5 linked regions of the Homo sapiens genome follow. The protein of the gene in region 1 purifies or fractionates together with the protein of each later gene. This does not show direct contact. Each region holds a gene or a part of one and is shown in the gene's direction. Other genes may lie near its edges.

Region 1 (3,987 bases):
CTTTTTGTCTGGACTGTTCTCCTGTGTGCCCACCTGCACTCACCAGCGAACTCCTATTGATTCTTCAGGTCTCAGCTTAGATTTCACATCCTCAGTTCTCAGGGAAGCCTCCTCTGACTGTCCCCTTTACCCTATAGTGTCCCTCAGACTATGTTAGGTCCCTTTGTTGTATCCTTCTATCACATTCTGCATCTCCTCCCTACCACTAATATGATTTTACATACAACCTTGTGTTCAGGATCGATTTTCTTCATTAGATGAAACTTGCTGTCTATATACTGTCTTGTTCTCTGCTCTATCCCTAGTACCTAGTACAATGAATGCCTGGCACATGATAAGTATTCAATAAATAATTATTGACTGAATATATATTGAAACCCTCTATAATTAATACATAGTAAGTGCTCAATAAATATAGTTAAAATACAGTTGTTATTATTGTCCAAAAGCAAATAGTTAATCAGAGGCAGAACCAGGATTTATAATTGAAGTCTGAGTCTAAAGCGCATGCTTCTTTTATGATATGACTTTGTCTGCAGAAATAGGTTCTTGGCCCAGCACTGCCCTAACTGGTTGTATGACACTTAGGGTGAGACACTATACTACTCTGAATCTTAGTTTTCCCATCGGTAAAATGGTTACAGGAGCAGGCAAAGTTCAGGTTTATCTTCACGTAACCTAGAAAAGGAGGAGAATAGAAGTCTAGATAGATGGGGATATAAGCAAATAAGTAATTAACCAATACAAATCAGTATCTTCCCTCTGCAAGACAGTTGATGAGCTATAACAAGAACCCTTGATGTTTTTATGCCCTTCAGCCTGGTAACCCTGTTCAAAGGCAATATAGAGTAGTGGATGGTATGGATGGTATGTAGGCTTTGGTGTTAGAGAGCCCTGGTTCAAATCCCAACATCCAATTTACTAGCTCTGTGGTACTGGGCAAGTTACCACCCTGAACCTCACTCAATTCCCTTCTCTACAAATGGGATAACACCCACCTTTTAACCCATTTCTAAGGTTACAAAAAAAAAAAAAATACAATAACATGAAAAGATGTTTTCTTAGTATAGAAAGAGAAACTTCTCCCACCATCCTACCCACCTAACAGTTCTTTCTGTAGTTCTGTGCCATTGAAGGCTACCTCTTGAGGCAAGAGGCACAGGCAATGTCAAGAAAAGAGAGACTGAAGACAAGCAGGCTGATGGCAGAAGCCAGAGTCCAGTGTGTGGAGTTGGATCACCCATAGGATAGACTGGGGCAGAGGGGAAGATCAGCTACTGAGGGAGAAGAAAGGAGACTACAAATCTGAGTAAGGGGATAATGGCTAGGCAGATCCTGAGAAGCATGGTAGGGAGCCAGTGGGAAGACAACAACATGCCTTAGAGGGTACCCCTTTCAAAACTTTGTAGCCCTTTCCCAGAGGCAGGCTTCAAATTATGTTATTAAAGGCCCTTGAAACTGTGTTTCTTCCAAATCTTTTTCTTATTTAGTCACATCCATGTATGTTTTGAAATTGTAATCTTAGTGTGTACACTTTTTCAGCGAGTATCTTATCTTCAACATTTTCTATGTCACAAGTCTTCAGTGGCTGTCAAATATCCTAATTTTGCTGAAAGCCCAGAAAGTACACCTCTGTGTATTAACTTTTTGCTTCCTTGAATTACCTCCTTAAAATATATTCCCAAGTATAGGATTCCTGAGCCACACGGTATACAATTGGGATTTAATGACCAAAACCAGGTTTTTCTTTTTCTAAGAAAGAAATTACCCATAATATCCTTTCCCCTTCCTTTTCTGGAACTGATAAACACACCCTCTAGAGTTGTGCTGTCTAATATGACAGCCAGTAGCCACACGTGGCTGTTTAAATTTTAAGTTTGATTAAATAAAATTCAAAACTCAGTTCCTCAGTAGCACTGGCCACATCACAAGTGCTCAGTAGCCATATGTGCATAGTGGCTATTATACTGGACAGCACAGATACAAAACATTTCCATCACTGTAGTAAGTTTATTGGACAGTGCTTACTTAGAGTTTCTCAAGAGATCATTTTTGGTTTCTTGGGTGGGAGTTCTTTGTGTTCAGGACTTTCCTGGGCATTGAGAGGCTATTTAGCATCTCTGGCCCATGTCCACTAAATGCCAGTAACACATTTCCTTGAGTCAATCTAACAGCCAAAACACTCCATATTTGCAAATGCCCCATAAGGGAACAAAATTAACCCCATTCGAGACCCACTGAGCTTTTAGAGGGAAACATCTCCTAACTTTTTCTTGAGACAAGGTCTTGCTCTGTCACCTAGGTTGGAGTGCAGTAGTGCAATCATAGCTTAAGCAATCCTCCTGCCTTATCCTCCTGAGTAGTTGAGACTACTGGCATGTACCACCATGTGTGGCTAATTCTTTCTTTCTTTCTTTCTTTTTCTTTTTCTTTTTCTTTTTTTTTTCTTTTTTCTTTTTCTTTTTTTTTTTTGTAGATATAAGGTCTCACTATGTTGCCCATGCTGGTTTCAAACTCCTGGGCTCAAGTGATCCTCCTGCCTCTGTCTTCCAAATTGCTGAGATTACTGGCATGAGCCATTGCACCTGGCCTTCTTTTTTGAGATGGCCTCAGGTTGGCTCTGCCTGGAGAGGGGGAAGCTTGTAAAGATGGCTTAGAAAAAAAGTCCTGGCTCCATTTCTATTTTCTCCCTTCTTTTGCTGGCCTGTTTCCTGCTTTTTGCAAATTGCAGGAACAAGACCCTGCAGATGGAGAAGATCAAGGCTCGTTTGAAGGCTGAGTTTGAGGCACTTGAGTCAGAGGAAAGGCACCTGAAGGAATACAAGCAGGAGATGGACCTTCTGCTACAGGAGAAGATGGCCCATGTGGAGGAACTCCGACTGATCCACGCTGACATCAATGTGGTACGTGGCTGCCTGGAGCCTATCTCTAAAGCCTTTGAGAAAGAGGTAGTGGTGAATGATAGGGCCTTTCCTTGAGATGTGGCTTAGGCCTAGCTCGGGGAGCAGGCATCAGTGCAGGCTGTGGTAGAGCAGAAGAATTCAGGAGTTCTGAGATCCAGCCCTGGCTCTGTCACTAACTGACTATATATCACTGGACAAGTCCCTTCTCTCTGGGCCTCATTTTCCCTCTCTGCACTATAAGGGGGACTCAGTACCCTCTAAATGTACTGATTTGATGTGCTCTCATTCTGGGATTCTGGGAGTTGAGAGCTAGCCTTGGGGAAAAGCAGAGCAGGCAGCTGCCTCTGGAATGTAGTTTAAAGCACTCCAAGCTTTCAGTCAGACCAAACAAATCATTTCTGCCTGCTACCAAAGTGGAGCTTCCTCATTGATATATCCTTTGGAAACTCTTGGAACACAGAATATGAACTGTCTGCTAAGGTGGTAAGCTCCCCTCTTTGGAATTATTCAAGCAGCATCTTAATGGACACTTGTATGAGCTACTGTACTGATGATTCCTTCACAAGGAAGGAGGTTGGCAGTGCTGACCAGTAAGGTCTTTTCAAACCCTTATCACCCATAACCATGAAGAATATATTTTTAAAATTTACTTTCAAAGGAACTAAGTTTATATTTCTGGAAAACTCATTTCTGTGGCAATACTCATTTTCTGATGTTGTCAGACCTAGGATCATAAAGGAAATATGAATGAGGTTTGGACAGTAAGCAATTGGGATTTTCTGTGTTAGAGATCGCAGAATTCTAGATCTCATAAAGTGTTGACAGTTTGGCTGCCAGCTAACCAATGATACAGGGCCAGTTAAATGAGGAAGATATTTGCCAGAAGGGCTAAGAATATAAGCCAGTGGATCTCAAACTTGAGCATGCATCAAAGCCACTTTGAGAGCCTAAGACACATATTGCTAGACTCCACCCCTGATTTTCTGATTTTGTATGTCTGAGGTGAACCTAAGAATATGCATTTCTGAGTTCCCAGGTGATGCTGATGCTGCTGATCCCTTGGCCACATTTTGAGAATCACTGA
Region 2 (3,987 bases), 9.7 Mb from region 1:
CTGTTTCCTAAACTTAATATTTCTTAATATCGTAATGTGGTGTAGGTTATATCTTATTTACAGTTACAGATTCATAGAACTGGAAAGTACCTTGCAGATGGTTTAATCCAATACTCTAATATTGATGGAGACTTCTCTGGCACAAGAGGTTAAATGAATTGGCCAAATCCACATAACCAAGTTACAACCAAGACTGGATTTCAGTATCTCTTTTTTCCTTTCACAGAGCTGAGTTTCACCCTGCTACCCATGTGTAGAATAAAAAAAGATACCTGGTTGTTAGCAAATATTTTTCTGTTACAAATACCATAACATTTTAATTAAACATTCTATATATGAAGAATCCCCAACACTTTTGGTGCCTACATACGTAATGATATGATGGTACTTTTTGTTTTCTGGCCTTAAATTCAGCAGTTCTTTGTGATTTAACTTTTAAAAAACTGAATAAAGTATTTTTCATTTTGGTGATGGTATTTAACATTTTCTTCATTGACACAGATCACATGTCACTAGTTCTTAAAGGACTCCTTTATGAAGTTCTTTTTTGTTTTTTTTGTGTGTGTGTGTTTTTGGTGTGTGGTTTTTTGTTTGTTTGTTTTGAGACGGAGTCTCGCTCTGTCACCCAGGCTGGAGTGCAATGGCACGATCTCTGCTCACTGCAACCTCCACCTCCCAGGTTCAAGCAATTCTCCCACCTCAGCCTCCTGAGTAGCTGGGATTACAGGCACCTGCCATCATGCCTGGCAAATTTTTGTATTTTTGTAGAGACAGGGTTTCACCATGTTGGCCAGACTGCTCTTGAACTCCTGACCTCAGGTGATCCGCCCGCGTCGGCCTCCCGAAGTGTTGGGATTACAGGCATGAGCCACTGTACTCAGCCTCCTTTATGAGATTCTTGATGAAGCTCTGTTGCAAACAAAATGGATTGCCCTTCTCTTGTCAGTGTGACACATTTTTGTGTTCATACCCATAATTTTTTAAAAATTGGCATGTCCTGCTTTAGAACTTTATTATAGAATTTGGAGCTTGAATGAACACATATGCACAAGGTGAAATATTCAACATGATTTAGTAGTTAGTTGATGTTACGTTACCTTAATTCCTCCCTCCCACCCACCCCACTTTTTTTAAAAAACGAGGTAATTTCTTCCATATGACTTTTTAAATTTTGATATGGAGTCTCTGTCACCCAGACTAGACTGCTGTGACGTGATCTGAGTTCACTGCAACCTCTGCCCCCAAACTCAAGTGATCCTCCCACCTCAGCCACATCAGCTCCCAAGTAGCTAGGACCACAGATGCGCGTTACCATGCCCAGCTAAGTTTTTGTGTCTTTGGTAGAAACGGTTTCACCATGTTGCCCAGGCTGGTTTTGAACTCCCGGGCTCAAGCGATCCGCCGACCTCGACCTCCCAAAGTGCTAGGATTACAGATGTCGGCCACCACACTCGGCCAGCACCATGCCCAGCCAAGATGACTCACTTTTTAAAATTGGTTTTTACACAGGCATTTCACTTGGTGTTTCAGAATTTAGTTTTGTAAGGTCTGTTTTATTAACAGTATTTTTGGATGCCTTAAGTCTCCTTAATTGGGTACTATAATGTAGTGTGTCCATCAAATATAACATGCCTGTGTTTATACTTAGCACCAGGTCTCCTGACCTGTTAGTACTGAACAATATGTTTTAAATAACTTTTTGCCTTAACATTATAACAATTAAATTTTTTAAAAGTTTGGTGTGCATGGATTAGAAGAATTAAATGAGATACTACATTTAGCAGTAATCAGAAACAGTCATTTGCATAATTTATATTAATATATAATAATGACTAGAAGAAGTTGAGATTATTAACAATACTTTAAAATTCTCAAAGTGAATAAAATCTGTTTTAAATAAATCTCAGGGTTGGTGTTCTTGCTGGCCTTTCCTCCCCAGAATTAAACTTACTGGATACAGTCCCATTCATTGACCAGATGAGTAGCTCTTTGAAACGATTGGGCAAAATTTCTCATTTGGTTTCTTGTTTCCAGGAATGGATTTGGATATATTGGCACACAGTACTCTAAAAGAAATAAGGTTAATAAAATATGCTGTTTATCTAAGGAGCAACTGTATTTTTAAAAATTACTAAAAGTTGACTTATTTAAAAATAAGTCCATCTAGGTTTGTGCTGCTTACAAAAGGTGTTTTGTCATTTTGGAATTTTTCATACAGGGAGTGAACATGGTATAAAAAGCTCATAGATTGAATAGTTTAGTCATACCTATTGGGATTGAAGGAAGGAATGTGTTTTAAAGTATAGAGTCTTGGGATATGTTGGGAGGCAGTTGTCTTAGTGAAAAGTTGACTGGATTTGGAATGCAGAGACCTGGATTTAATTACTGGCCCTTTCCCACTTACTAGTCACATGGTTTTTGGTAAATCACTTTCTTTCTCTGTGCTTCTGTTTGTCACCTGTAGAGGTGGTGATTCCTAATTCATGGGATTATTGTGAAGATTAAATGAAATACAGGTGTAAGGGCTATGTAAATACAGGGTGATGAGTATTGCTTATAGCCAGAGAGAGACCTAAGTGACTTCAAAACAGTTATATTTCATTGTTTAAATTACTGTATGTTTCACGGGTAATCTTTTCATAGAAAAACAGCTGATGCTAATCATATGCTGAAGTCAGAATTTCTGACTTATCTGAGATAACTAAAGAAATGGATTTATGACCTTCTCTTTTACGATGATGTTGAAAGATCCCAGCGGTGTATAAGGATTCTCTTTTTCCTCTTGCTACTTAAGCTAGAAATGTACCACAATGTTACTCACTGCAAAGTAGAATCTGGAGACCTGTTTTGTTAATGTTATTCTTCACTAATATTTTCACACCCAAAATGGAGATAGAGCTGTATTTGATCATTTGGAGTATGGTTTTCTGGTATTTTTGGCATGCCTAAACTTTAAAATGTTTGTTTGCACTTAGTAAACAATAGTGGCAGATTATATCTACCTGGGGCAGAACTTGTGGTTTTTAGATTTATTCCATTTCTTTCTTTTATGCCGCTTAGATAGTGAAGGTCTGCTTAAAATAAGACCAGGCTCATTGGGTGTGTGAGAGTAAAATTAGTTTACAAGGCATTTGAGAGCATTGCCTTGATTTCCATTTTCTTTGCAAATGTAATTATGTCTAGTCCAGGGGACCTCTGCAGGTATTGTAGCCATAGCTTACTCTTTGAATTCCCTTATAAGGGAGGGAGTGCCTTGCCAGTGCTGAAATCTCTTGACCCCCAATTCCAGCCCAGGGGAAATGCTAAGTTAAGGCAGAAAGGATGGAGGCTTTGAAATAAGTGTGTTGCAGGAGTATCATGGGGAAAATATTTTCCTTGATTGTCTCTGGCATATATATGGAAGGGTAGCAGGAAAGGAGACAGCAGCATATTATTATTATTGAAGAGGTAGTGATTTGGATTTGTTCACATGTTGCTTTATGAGTGTGTCTCATTAAAATTTTGAATTAAATAAAATTTAGAATTCCCTCTTTCATGGAACGGAATCCAAGCTCATCAAGCAGGAGCTGTTTAGGATTCAAAAATCTCTGAAATCAGTGTCAGGAAAATTTTGAATGGAGGTAAAATGTTTTGTCTCTAGTTTCTATGTAGGAAATGGTAGAAATTCTAAAAGGTCAAGAATGAATCTTGAAGATTCATGAGCATAGGAAAGACTTATCTATCCCATGAGTATTGAACATTGTAGAGTATTGAACCTTATTGTTTTATTTTTGGAAAACATAAAGGGGATGCAAATAGTGGGTTTGTAGAGCATGAAAAATATATTGGGGACATTTGAAACTCTCCCTATTTGGGATTTCTCTATCTTACAAAGAAATACTTTAAAGCTGTGCTGCCCAATATGGTAGCCATTAACCACTATGTGACTGTTAGACACTTGAAATAAGACTAGTGAAACTGAAATTTTAAGTTTTTTTTTTATTTTAA
Region 3 (3,684 bases), on another chromosome or scaffold:
GCCACACCCAGCTAATTTTTTGTATTTTAGTAGAGACAGGGTTTCACCATTTTGCCCAGGCTGGTCTCGAACTCCTGAGCTCAGGCAATCCACCCACCACAGCCTCCCGAAGTGGTAGGATTACAGGCCTGAACCACCACGTCTGGCCTGTTCCCCTTTTTATAAGGACAGTCATATTGGCTTAGGGTTCACTCTTGTGATCTCATTTAATTCTAATTACCTTTAAAGACCCTATCTCCAAATACAGTCACATTCTGAGGTACTGGGAGTTATTAGGATTTCAATATATGATTTTAACAATTCAGCCCATAACAGTACTACTTAATTTTTGTGTATTTCATTTTACATCCCACAACTTTGTTAACCCTATTACAAACACGAATGTGTATGTACATACCTTCCAAATTTTTATTTACATGAACAGGCATATAATCTGCAACTAATATCAGTGTTTTCTTCCTTCCTTATCAATTCTTACACCTTTTATTTCTCTTTCTTGCCTTTCTGTACTCACTGAGACCCCGGATTCAGTGTTATATTTACAAAGTAGTAACTGGCAACCTTATCTTGTTCCTAATCATACAGAAAATGACGTCAGTGTTACATAATTTAATATTAACTGTGGGGGTTTTTTGTCATTATCATTTATCATGTAATGACAGTTCCTTTCTGTTCCTGGATTACAACAATTTTTAATTATGAATGGCAGTCATGTTCTTTCTGTATCTGCTGAGATGATTAAACCTTTTTTTCTTTTAATATGTTTACATATTGTGTTAAATTAATCTGTTTTCTAGAGCTAACTCTTGTATGCCTGGGATAAACCCAGTTTGCAAGTATTGTATTCTGTAGCACTTGCTAGATTTGATTGCTGGGTTTTGTTCAGGATTTTTGCATCCATGTTTAATGACACTGGCTTGTATTTTTCCTTCTTGTATTGCTCTAGTATGACTTCAGTAGCAAGTCTGTGCAAGCCTCATAAAATACGTTGAGGAGTCATCCCACTTTTTCTCTCCTCTAGAATAATTTCTGAAAGATTGGAATTAAACGTTCATTGAATGTTTAGCAGAACTCACATGTAAAGCCTTTTGGACATGTGGTTTTCTTTATGAGAAGATATTCAACAACTGATTGAATTTTTAACAACTATAGTATTATTCCAGTTCTTTTCTACTCTGTTGGTAAATTATACTTTTCTAGGAATTTATCCATTTCTTATGACTTAAAAATAATTGTCATGAAGTTTTTTATGACATCATCTTGCTCTTAAATTTCTGGATCATCTGCATTTTTGTTACCGTTGCCATTTCTGATAATCTTGGGGCCTTTTCTCTTTTTTCCTCAAACAATATTTCCAAACTCTGTCAGCAAAGTATTTCAAAGACCTAACTGGACTTTTTTTGTGCTGTTGTGTGTGTTTTCTATTTCCTTTATTTCTGCCAGTTATTTTCTTGTTTTTACTTTCTTTAGGTTTATACTTTGTCTAAAAATGTTTAGGTTGCTCATTAACTTTTAGCCTTTTCTAATATTTCAAGGTCATTAATTTCCTTATAAATTACAACTCGAAGCTGCATCTTAAAAATTTAGGTAAGAGGTTTTGTAATTATCATTTGGTTTTCAGTATTTTCTGAGAAGAAGTGTTCTTAACATCCCAACATATGATTTCTTTTTTTTTTTCTTTTTTTTTTTTTGAGACAGGGTCTTACCCTGTCACTTAGGCTAGAGTGCAATGGTGTGATCATGGCTCACTGCAACTTTGACCTCCCAGGCTCAGGTGATCCTCCCACTTCAGCCTCCCGGGTAGCTGGGACCACAGGCATGTGCCAGCACACCCAGCTAATTTTTTGTATTTTTTGTTGAGATGGCATTTTTCCATATTGCCCAGGGTGGTCTCAAACTCTTGGGCTCAAGCGATCTTCCTGTCTCGGCCTCCCAAAGTGCTGAGATTACAGGCATGAGCCACCATGCCTAGCCCATATGGTATTTTTCTATTTTGCTATTGATTTCTCAGTTAATTGCAGTGCTGTGAGAGGATAAATCATGGTCTATGTGATGACATCCTTTGACATTTGTTAACGCCTAATGTATGGTCAGTTTTCAAGTGTGCCTGAAAAGTATGAATGTTCTCTAACCACCAGGGACAGTAGCCATATATGCCTATTAACACAGTGCTACTCAACACAGTGTTTATCTTATCTATCCTTAGTGCTAATAGAAGACTGTCTTAAGATAAAAGATATTCAGATAATGGAAAACCCTTTGTTTTTCTTTGTATAGAGTGGTGAGGCTAAACGGCAATATAAAGGAACCTTAGACTGCTTTGTGAAGATATACCAACATGAAGGAATCAGTTCCTTTTTTCGTGGCGCCTTCTCCAATGTTCTTCGCGGTACAGGGGGTGCTTTGGTGTTGGTATTATATGATAAAATTAAAGAATTCTTTCATATTGATATTGGTGGTAGGTAATCGGGAGAGTAAATTAAGAAATACATGGATTTAACTTGTTAAACATACAAATTACATAGCTGCCATTTGCATACATTTTGATAGTGTTATTGTCTGTATTTTGTTAAAGTGCTAGTTCTGCAATAAAGCATACATTTTTTCAAGAATTTAAATACTAAAAATCAGATAAATGTGGATTTTCCTCCCACTTAGACTCAAACACATTTTAGTGTGATATTTCATTTATTATAGGTAGTATATTTTAATTTGTTAGTTTAAAATTCTTTTTATGATTAAAAATTAATCATATAATCCTAGATTAATGCTGAAATCTAGGAAATGAAAGTAGCGTCTTTTAAATTGCTATTCATTTAATATACCTGTTTTCCCATCTTTTGAAGTCATATGGTATGACATATTTCTTAAAAGCTTATCAATAGATGTCATCATATGTGTAGGCAGAAATAAGCTTTGTTCTATATCTCTTCTAAGACAGTTGTTATTACTGTGTATAATATTTACAGTATCAGCCTTTGATTATAGATGTGATCATTTAAAATTTGATAATGACTTTAGTGACATTATAAAACTGAAACTGGAAAATAAAATGGCTTATCTGCTGATGTTTATCTTTAAAATAAATAAAATCTTGCTAGTGTGAATATATCTTAGAACAAAAGGTATCCTCTTGAAAATTAGTTTGTATATTTTGTTGACAATAAAGGAAGCTTAACTGTTATAAAGGAGTCTTTTTTTCCCTGACTCTGACTTTATTAGTAAGCAGAGTATAGCAAAATTTTTGTCAGAACTGGCTTAACTAAAGAGAGAGGTATTTCTCAATGGACAGATATAAACAGCATTCCAAGGTTTTGTACGGGAGTTTGTCTTGTTTTTCAGAGCTGTTGTAGAATACAGTATATTTGAAATCCCCAAGTTTTTAACGTTCTAATGAGTAAAGGGATGTTAAGCTAGTGGGGATAAACTATAGACGGATTTTCTGAGGCTGTGAATGGGCAAAATGGGGTGGAGGAACTTCCTTATGCACAGGGACAAAGCGTATTTCAAGGACAATAATACAGACCATACTTTTAAATATATTGGTGTTATCCCTCAAGAGGAAAAAAAGTCAAACTCTAAACATCATTTCTTGCAGTGGTCAACATAATGGAGTTACAGGAACAAAATAGAAAATATTTTCCTTTCCTGCTGCACTATCAAATGGTTCAAAGAAAGATGGTT
Region 4 (3,987 bases), on another chromosome or scaffold:
CATTTCTCTCCTTGGGTATCAAATTTTGATGCCGTGGTTTTGTTTTGCGTATGCTGATATAGACATTTAAGTGGTACTTAATATACCTTTATAATAAGGTAAATCAACTTTTTTTCCAAAATGAAGATACCTTAATGTGTTTGATTACAAAAGTAATACACATACAGGAAACTTAAACATTATGTAAAAATAGAAAGTAAAGACACTAGAAAGGGTGCTGTCCAGAAAAGCTCCACGTTACAGCTGTTTTGCACTAGTGAACGGGATGCGTTGGAGGCTGTGGCCACTGCCCTGGCCGGCTTGTCTGCGGCTCTCACTCAGGTGCCAGGGAGTTTTTCTCACGGCTGTGCATGTGATGATTCATCACCCTTAAAGAATTCCCGGCCGGGCATGGTGGGTCGTGCCTGGAATCCCAGCACTTTGGGAGGCCAAGATGGGTGGATCACTTGTCAGGAGTTCAAGACCAGCCTGGCCAATATGGTGAAACCCCATCTCTAACTAAAAATACAAAAATTAGCTGGGTGTGGTGGTACGTGCCTGTAATCCCAGCTACTTGGGAGGCCGAGGTGGGAGAATCGCTTGAACCTGGGAGGTCGAGGTTGCAGTGAGCCGAGACCGCACCACTGCACTCCAGCCTGGGCGACAGTGAGACTCTGTCTCAAAAAAAAAATAATAATAATTAGGCCAAGCATGCTGATGTGCTCCTGTAGTCCCAGCACTTTGGGAGGCTGAGGCCAGAGGCCAGAGGACCCCTTGAAGCCAGGAGTTCCAGGCTGTAGTGAGCCGTGGTTCTGCTACTGCTCTCCAGCCTGGGTGACAGAGCAAGACTCTGTCCACCCCCCACCCCCAACAAAAAGAATTTCACTATATAGATGTTTCTTGATTTTTCAAACTGGTCTGTTAGTTTGTGTTCAGTTTGTCACCTTTGTGAGAAAAAAAACACTCATAAGTTAGTGTGTACTTCCTACTTAATTTCTCCTGGGTCATCGTGAAGCACTCCCTGCCCTCCATGAGAACAGTATGTCACCCGCTCTCTTCCCTGTGCCAAGCCCATAAAGGGCTGTTGGCAAATATGTCGGACAAATAGACTCGCCTAAGAGGGCCTTTCTCTCCAAGCCCTCGCCAGCACAGGCTGTGTCACTTTCTTAGGTGGCACCTACCGTCTGTTGCACACTTGCCGCAGATGATTTGGCACAGGATGTCGCTTCAGAAAACCTTGTAGGAAGCTGTGAGGTCGTTACCGTCCCCATTTCACAGACAGGAAAGTGCAGGCCTTAGATGCACTGCCTGATACCCTGTGGCCCCCGCGTTCCTAGACAGATACACTGCCTGGTACACTGTACCCCCCCACCCCCGCTATCGTTTGCAGCTGGGGTTGAACCCTGCATTCATAGACAGGTTCCCCCTTGAGTGAGCCCCCCATCTGCTTAACTGAGGGCTTGTCCTGGTTATAAATGTCTGGGTGGGGGTGGGCACTGCTGGCTGCAGCTGTCAGGACTGGGAATGCTGAACCTGCACTGAGGGGAGTAGGCCCCAGAGATGCTCCCAAGACCCTGGAGACACAGGCCAGGTAGACACCTGTGTGTGTGTGTATATATATGTGTGTGTGTGTATATATATATATGTGTGTGTGTGTATATATATGTACATATATATATACACACACACACACATACATATAAAAGAGCCGGGCATTGTTTGTGTGTGTGTGTGTGTATATATGTATATATGTGTGTGTGTGTGTGTATATATATAGTGTGTATATATAGTGTGTATATAGTGTATATAGTGTGTGTATATATATATTGTGTGTATATATATCGTGTGGATATATATTGTGTGGATATATATATAGTGTATATATATTGTGGACATATGTATAGTGTGTATATATATTGTGGACATATATAGTGTATATATATTTTGGACATATATAGTGTATATATATTGTGGATATATATATAGTGTGTATATATATTGTGGATATATATATAGCGGGTATATGTAGTGGATATATATAGTATATATATATTGTGGATATACACACACACACAATAGCTGGGCATTGTAGTGCATGCTTGTAGTCCCAGTTACTCAGGAGGCTGAGGTAGAAGGATAACCTGAGCCCAGGGAGATTGAGGCTGCAGTGAGCCGTGATCAGTCGCTCCATTGCCCTCCAGCCTGGGCGACAGAGACCCTGTCTCCAAAAAAAAAAAAAAAAAATTGGCTGCAGCTCCAATTTGAGAAGCAAATTCTTGTGAGAGAAGGGTTTTTAAAGAAGAAACCCCATTCTCTCCACCTGAACTTAGGGTGGCCATCATCTCACTTGGCAATCCCTGCCTGGTCAGTAATCACATGAAACTGAATGAGAGTAGACAGGGTGTCTGGAAAAAGTGAATGCTAAAGCAGTACCTGTCACTGCCACTAGGATCCTGACTGAACCGGAATGGCCTCGGGGAGCAGCCTTTCAGGCTCCAGCAGTGGAAGGCGCTGCTGTGTCAGCGGTTACCAGACTGGCAGGACCCAGGACTGCTTTACACTCCTAAAAAGCAGGGAAGACCCCAAAGAGCTTTTGTTATATCTATTGATAGTCACCATGTTTGACATTTAAAAATGAGTCATTTAAATGCTGAAGTGCCTTCTATTTAAAATTGGAAACCAGCCGGGCACGGTGGCTCATGCCTGTAATCCTAGCACTTTGGGAGGCCAAGGTGGGCGGATCACCTGAGGTCAGGAGTTCAAGACCAGCCTGGCCAACATGGTGAAACCCTTTCTCTACTAAAGACACAAAAAAAATAACTCGGCATGGTGGCACACGCCTGTAATCCCAGCTACTCGGGAGGCTGAGGCAGGAGAATCCCTTGAACCCAGGAGGCGGAGGTTGCAGTGAGCTGAGATCGTGCCACTCCACTCCAGCCTAAGTGAGAGCGAGACTCCATCTCAAATAAATAAAGTAAAATTGTAAACCATTATATATTAACATAAGTAAACCATTTAGTGGAACCTGTTTTCAATGACGAAAACAATGAGAAAGATGGTTTTGTTTTCACAAATCTGTTTGGCTTAACTGACAGCTTCTGGATTCTCCTTCCGAATTCAAACTTAGTGTCTCCGTTCAGCTTCTGAAATGCTCTAGCATATACTCAGAGTGGCTGTGGAAACAGCATGGAATGTTGGTGTTGTGCAGACTGCTTTGATCCGGGGGCCTCCCAAAAGGACCCCTGGACCACGCTTTGAGAACCACTTCTCTAAGAGTTGTAAAATAGCTCTAAACACTTGGGGAAATTGATTACTTTTAGGAAGATAAGCTGTGTCTTTGAACAATTTTTAGTGGCTCAACCATGTGCTTGCCCCTTGGGGCAAGTGTGGAATCAATCTGATGCGCTGTCACCGGTAAAGCTGTTCCAGTACACACCTCTCCCTCAAAGTGCCCTACACAGCCCCTTGCTGAATCCTTTGCAGCAGTGAAAATCGGGGGTTGGGGGGAGGCAAGAGTAGGCTGTGCTTGGGGCCATGGAATTATGCAGGTCTCTAAGGGTGTGGACCGAGGAGAACATAAAGGAACAGTGATTTAAACCTGTAATAAACAGATGCCCTTGAGGGGAAGCAGCCCCCACAGTACCCTGCTGGGATGACCTCCCGCAGCGCACCCCACTCACATGGTACCCGGGGAGCTCACACTGCCACACTTGCGGCATGAGGTGGATTTCTTCATGGGGATAAGAACCTGTGCATTGTGGTCCTCACCAGGGCCCAAGTGGTAATCTTTTATTAAGAGCAACAGGAATCCTGGTATGTAGAATTGGGACCGTATCTTAAGTGTTTGAAACCATACTTTCTTTTTTACTGAGACAAGAGGAGTCCATCAAAGGTAGTGGTTTAGGAGACTTTATGTCCAGCCATTAAATAGAGAACAATAAACCTCACTTCTCCTTCACCTCGATAAATGATTTTATGTGACTGTTTCTGGTTCCTGGCATTCATTTG
Region 5 (4,058 bases), on another chromosome or scaffold:
CTGGAAATTTCTTCCCCTGCAAGGCTCTGTCTCTCACCCCCTTCTGGTCTTTGCTAAAAACGCCACCTACTTGATGAGGTTTTTCCTGATCCTCCTATTTTAAATTGCAAACACTTGGCTGGGCGCGGTGGCTCACACCTATAATCCCAACAGTTTGGGAGGCCGAGGTGGGTGTATCACCACCTGAGGTCAGGAGTTCAAGACTAGCCTAGCCAATATGGTGAAACCCCATCTCTACTAAAAATACAAAAAGTAGTCGGACGTGGTGGGCACCTGTAATCCCAGCTACTCGGGAGGTTGAGGCAGAAGAATTGCTTAAACCCGGGAGAAGGAGGTTGCAGTGAGCCGAGAACGCGCCATTGTACTCCAGCCTGGGCGACAAGAGCAAAACTCCGTCTCAAAAAAACAAAGAAAAAAATTGCAAACACTTAACTCCCCCACTCCATTCTCCTTCTCTAATTTTTTCTTTATAGCCCTTATCACCATCTGACTGACAGATTCTTTTAAATTTTGATATTTTGTTTGCCATGGATTTTTTGCATTTTGTTTTTTTAAAAAAACAATTGTATTAAAATACTGTTTATCTTGGTTACTGAGTTCTTTGCTCCCATTCCCTGCCCTGCTTAAATTTCGCTCTATTGGTTTATTGACTGTGTCCTCTCTAGAACACAAGCTACACTGAACGCAGTTAATTTTGTCTGTTTGGTTCACTTCACTGTCCCCAGTGTCTACAGCAGTGGCTTCTACGTGGTAGCAGCTCAAAAAATATTTTGTGAATGGAAGTTTGAATCTGTGTCTTAAAGACTGTCTTGGGCACTGTAATAAAGGCGTCTTTCTCAAACTGTTTCACAATTTTATACTATTTAAATGGAAAGCCCGTAAAAATCATAGGATAGATTAGAAACTACACTGCCCAGTGTGTCGTCATGGTTACACTGTCGCCAGTGGTTCTCCTATTGGGGGAGTGGGCGGGGCCTGGCAGGGGCAGGAAGAGCACCCTCAAGTCATCATAGAGTTATACCTCCCAAGTTCCTAGAAAGTACTTCCGGAACGGTGATTTACTCAAGGCTGCCCTGGCCAATCAACGATCTTGGGGAAAGCCGGGTACTCGCTCTTTGGCTACACTTCCGGAAAACCTCTCACGCGCGCCTAGCGTGGGGCGGGGCCAGAGCGCCCCTGCCCTCGGCCCCGCCTCCGTGAGCGCGGCTTTGCAATTGGCGAAAAGGGCAGGAGGCGGGGCTTAGGAGCGGGCTTGCTCGAGGCGCAAGCGCGCTGGCCCGGCACGGCGGTGGTCTTGCGGGAGGCGTGGGCTGGGATTGCGGTAGGTGAACGTGGGTGACTCCCAGACCTGAGGGACGGGCGCGGGCAGCGAAATGAAGCGAGCACGCGGTGTGGGCGCGGAGACCTAGGACCCTGGTGTCCGTTTTCCCACTTGCATCCCGTCCTTGAGTTGGGGCGGGCGAGAATCCCATAAACTTTTCGATACTCCTGGTCTCCGTGTCCTCCGTTGTAAAATGAGGGCAGCACTTCCTGGTCTCTCCCTCGGTCGTCGTGAGAGTCACACAGTTCTCGAAGTGCCAGCTCTGGAAAGGCCCTGGGACCACCTGCTGCCTGAGCCAGCCTTCCCGTTTTATGTTGGAGAAAACGGAGGTCCGGGGCGAAGTGAGTGGTCCAGGGTCACCGAGCGAGTGAAGGCCGAGCTTGTTCTTAGAACTAGGCCTAGGGTTCCATTGCTGTTTAATGTAGCACAGTTCGTGATGGAAACTGTAGGATTTGGAGGCGGGGACCTTGCCTTCCAGGCCCGACCCTGCGCTTATTTGCTGTGTGGCTTGACACAAGTGACTTTATATTTCAGAGCCTCCCTTTTCTGAGTTGGGCATAATAATAATAATAATAGCACTTTGTGAGACTTAATATTATGTATCAGGTACGGTTGTAAACGCTTTAGGTACAACTTTTCTGATTAGATTGGGGGGCAATGGTGAGTCAAAGAATCTTTAAAAAGGCCTGGGCTGGAAGGGCTGACAGTGTCCCGACAGAGTAGGTACTCAAAAAAATCGACTGAATGTCTCAGAGGCTGTTTGCCAGAGCCTGAAGTGTTGCATACGTTAGTTACTGTATTGCTCCTGAAAAACTGAGATAATTCTACTTATTCTCCTGTTTGTATAAGCTGAGGGGTCTGAGGACAGACATGCTAAACGTGGAGGAGAAGAGTTTAAAGCTCTCGTTTAAATTATCCAGATAATTATATCATTGCACCTGTTTGCTTTGCTCTTAATTTATTAACATATTTGATCAACAGATAATAATAGCCTAAATAGTAGGCATTATGCGAGACTCTGAAATTTAAAGATGTATAAAACTTCATAAACTTGTAATTTCATCAAGGAATAGAATGTTAAACATCGACACTGACCTCCCCTCCTGGCCCCCGTACACACCCCCAGAAAGAAAAAAAATTGTATGTGAAACACCATTCGCTTCCAATGCCTGGCACACAATAGTTCCTCAAAAATATTTTTGGAGATGATTCTAATACAGTATACTAAAAAGAGGTGTGTGCAGTGGAGCACAGAGGAGGTGACTTTCTCTGTTTAGAGGGGTTGGAGAAAGTTTCTTGGAGTAAGTGAACCTTGAATTCCAGTTGGAATTGCTGGGGGTTGGGGGGAGGTCAGTCTGTTTCAAGAATAATGAGCAACTTGGGGAATGCTAGGATAAGAAGCTGGAAGAGGTGTGTTGGGATCAAAATGTGAAGAGCTTTGGTGCCATTCTGAGAAAATTATGAGAGCCAGCCGTTAATGGATTGTAAACAGGGGAGTGATTGGGTCAGCTATCTTTTTAGCTGGAGACTAATACGGAGACTGGACTGACAGGGTTCAAGAATTACTCCATTCATTCATTGATAGAACATGTATTGAGCCTGGGCACAGTGGCTCACACCTATAATCCCAGCAATTTGGGAAGCTGAGGCAGGTGGATCGCATGAGGCCAGGAGTTCAAGACCAGCCTGGGCAACATAGCAAGACTCCATCTCTATTTTTTAAGAAAGAAAAAAAGGAACATGTTATTGAGTGTCCACTGTGTCCAGGCACTGTGCTGAATGCTGCAGATAAAACTTGGAATAAAATAGACATAGCTGTCGTCTTCATGGAGTTTAAGACATTAGTCATTGGTGGTACACAGCTAGACCCCTGCAGTGGTTCTCCCAGTGGGGTCCCTGGACCAGCAGCATCTGTGTCACCTGGGAACTTGTTAGAAATACAGGTTCTCTGCCCACACCCCAAACTTACTAAATGAGAAGCTCTGGAGATGGGCCTCTGCAATCACTGTTTTAACAAACCCAACCGGGCATGGTGGCTCACGCCTGTAATCCCAGCACTTTGGGAGGCCGTGGCGGGCTGATCACTTGAGGTCAAGGAGTTTGAGACCAGCCTGGCCAACATGGTGAAACTCTGTCTGTACTAAAAATATGAAAAATAGTTGGGCATGGTGGCACATGCCTGTAATTCCAGCTACTCAGGAGGCTGAGGCAAGAGAATCTCTTGAGGCTGGGGGTACGGAGGTTGCAGTGATCTGACATTGCACCACTGCACTCCAGCCTGGGTGATAGAGTGAACTCTGTCTCTAAAAAAAAAAAAAAAAAAACAAGCCCTCCAGCGATTCTGATGCTCAATTAGATTTCAGAACCACTGGGTAACTGTAATGTAGCAAGTGGTATTGAGGGGCTAACCTAATGTTGAGGCAGTAAGGGCCAGAAAGGAGGGGGTGGACTTAAGGGAAACCTTGAGACAGACTCATTTGCTTTAGGAGGAATCAAGGATGAGTTTCTGGCTGGAGCCACTGCCCTAAGTAAGGTTGGATCACAAGGAAGTTATAGAGCCAGGGGTGAATCCACATGTGCCTTGCCTCCATGGCCCGTACGTTCCTACAACACCACACTAGGGCTCTGTGGCAGTGCCTGACCACCTTTAAACATTTGTACAGTGCACAGGGGAAATGAATGAGGCTGCTTGAGGTTGGAGGGGACAAGCTGGAGGACCTGAGGCTGCTAGAGGTAA

The links.
Region 2: the proteins of ZC4H2 (region 1) and RLIM purify together in Homo sapiens (affinity purification with western blotting; one study listed by BioGRID). This does not show direct contact.
Region 3: the proteins of ZC4H2 (region 1) and SLC25A31 purify together in Homo sapiens (affinity purification with mass spectrometry; one large-scale study listed by BioGRID and IntAct). This does not show direct contact.
Region 4: the proteins of ZC4H2 (region 1) and DIDO1 purify together in Homo sapiens (affinity purification with mass spectrometry; one large-scale study listed by BioGRID and IntAct). This does not show direct contact.
Region 5: the proteins of ZC4H2 (region 1) and PARS2 purify together in Homo sapiens (affinity purification with mass spectrometry; one large-scale study listed by BioGRID and IntAct). This does not show direct contact.

Annotation. Positions count from the first base shown.
Region 1 is NC_000023.11:64,920,733-64,924,719, reverse strand, and holds part of ZC4H2 (zinc finger C4H2 domain-containing protein), read left to right. Parts: intron 1-2,476; exon of another isoform or gene 2,477-2,731; coding exon 2,732-2,903; intron 2,904-3,987. UniProt on the Homo sapiens protein: Plays a role in interneurons differentiation. Involved in neuronal development and in neuromuscular junction formation.
Region 2 is NC_000023.11:74,604,324-74,608,310, reverse strand, and holds part of RLIM (E3 ubiquitin-protein ligase RLIM), read left to right. Parts: intron 1-3,987. UniProt on the Homo sapiens protein: E3 ubiquitin-protein ligase.
Region 3 is NC_000004.12:127,771,109-127,774,792, forward strand, and holds the end of SLC25A31 (ADP/ATP translocase 4), read left to right. Parts: intron 1-1,535; coding exon of another isoform or gene 1,536-1,587; intron 1,588-2,277; coding exon 2,278-2,466; 3' UTR 2,467-3,184; downstream 3,185-3,684. UniProt on the Homo sapiens protein: ADP:ATP antiporter that mediates import of ADP into the mitochondrial matrix for ATP synthesis, and export of ATP out to fuel the cell.
Region 4 is NC_000020.11:62,919,869-62,923,855, reverse strand, and holds part of DIDO1 (death-inducer obliterator 1), read left to right. Parts: intron 1-3,987. UniProt on the Homo sapiens protein: Putative transcription factor, weakly pro-apoptotic when overexpressed. Tumor suppressor. Required for early embryonic stem cell development.
Region 5 is NC_000001.11:54,761,724-54,765,781, reverse strand, and holds the start of PARS2 (probable proline--tRNA ligase, mitochondrial precursor), read left to right. Parts: upstream 1-1,258; 5' UTR 1,259-1,321; intron 1,322-4,058. UniProt on the Homo sapiens protein: Mitochondrial aminoacyl-tRNA synthetase that catalyzes the specific attachment of the proline amino acid (aa) to the homologous transfer RNA (tRNA), further participating in protein synthesis.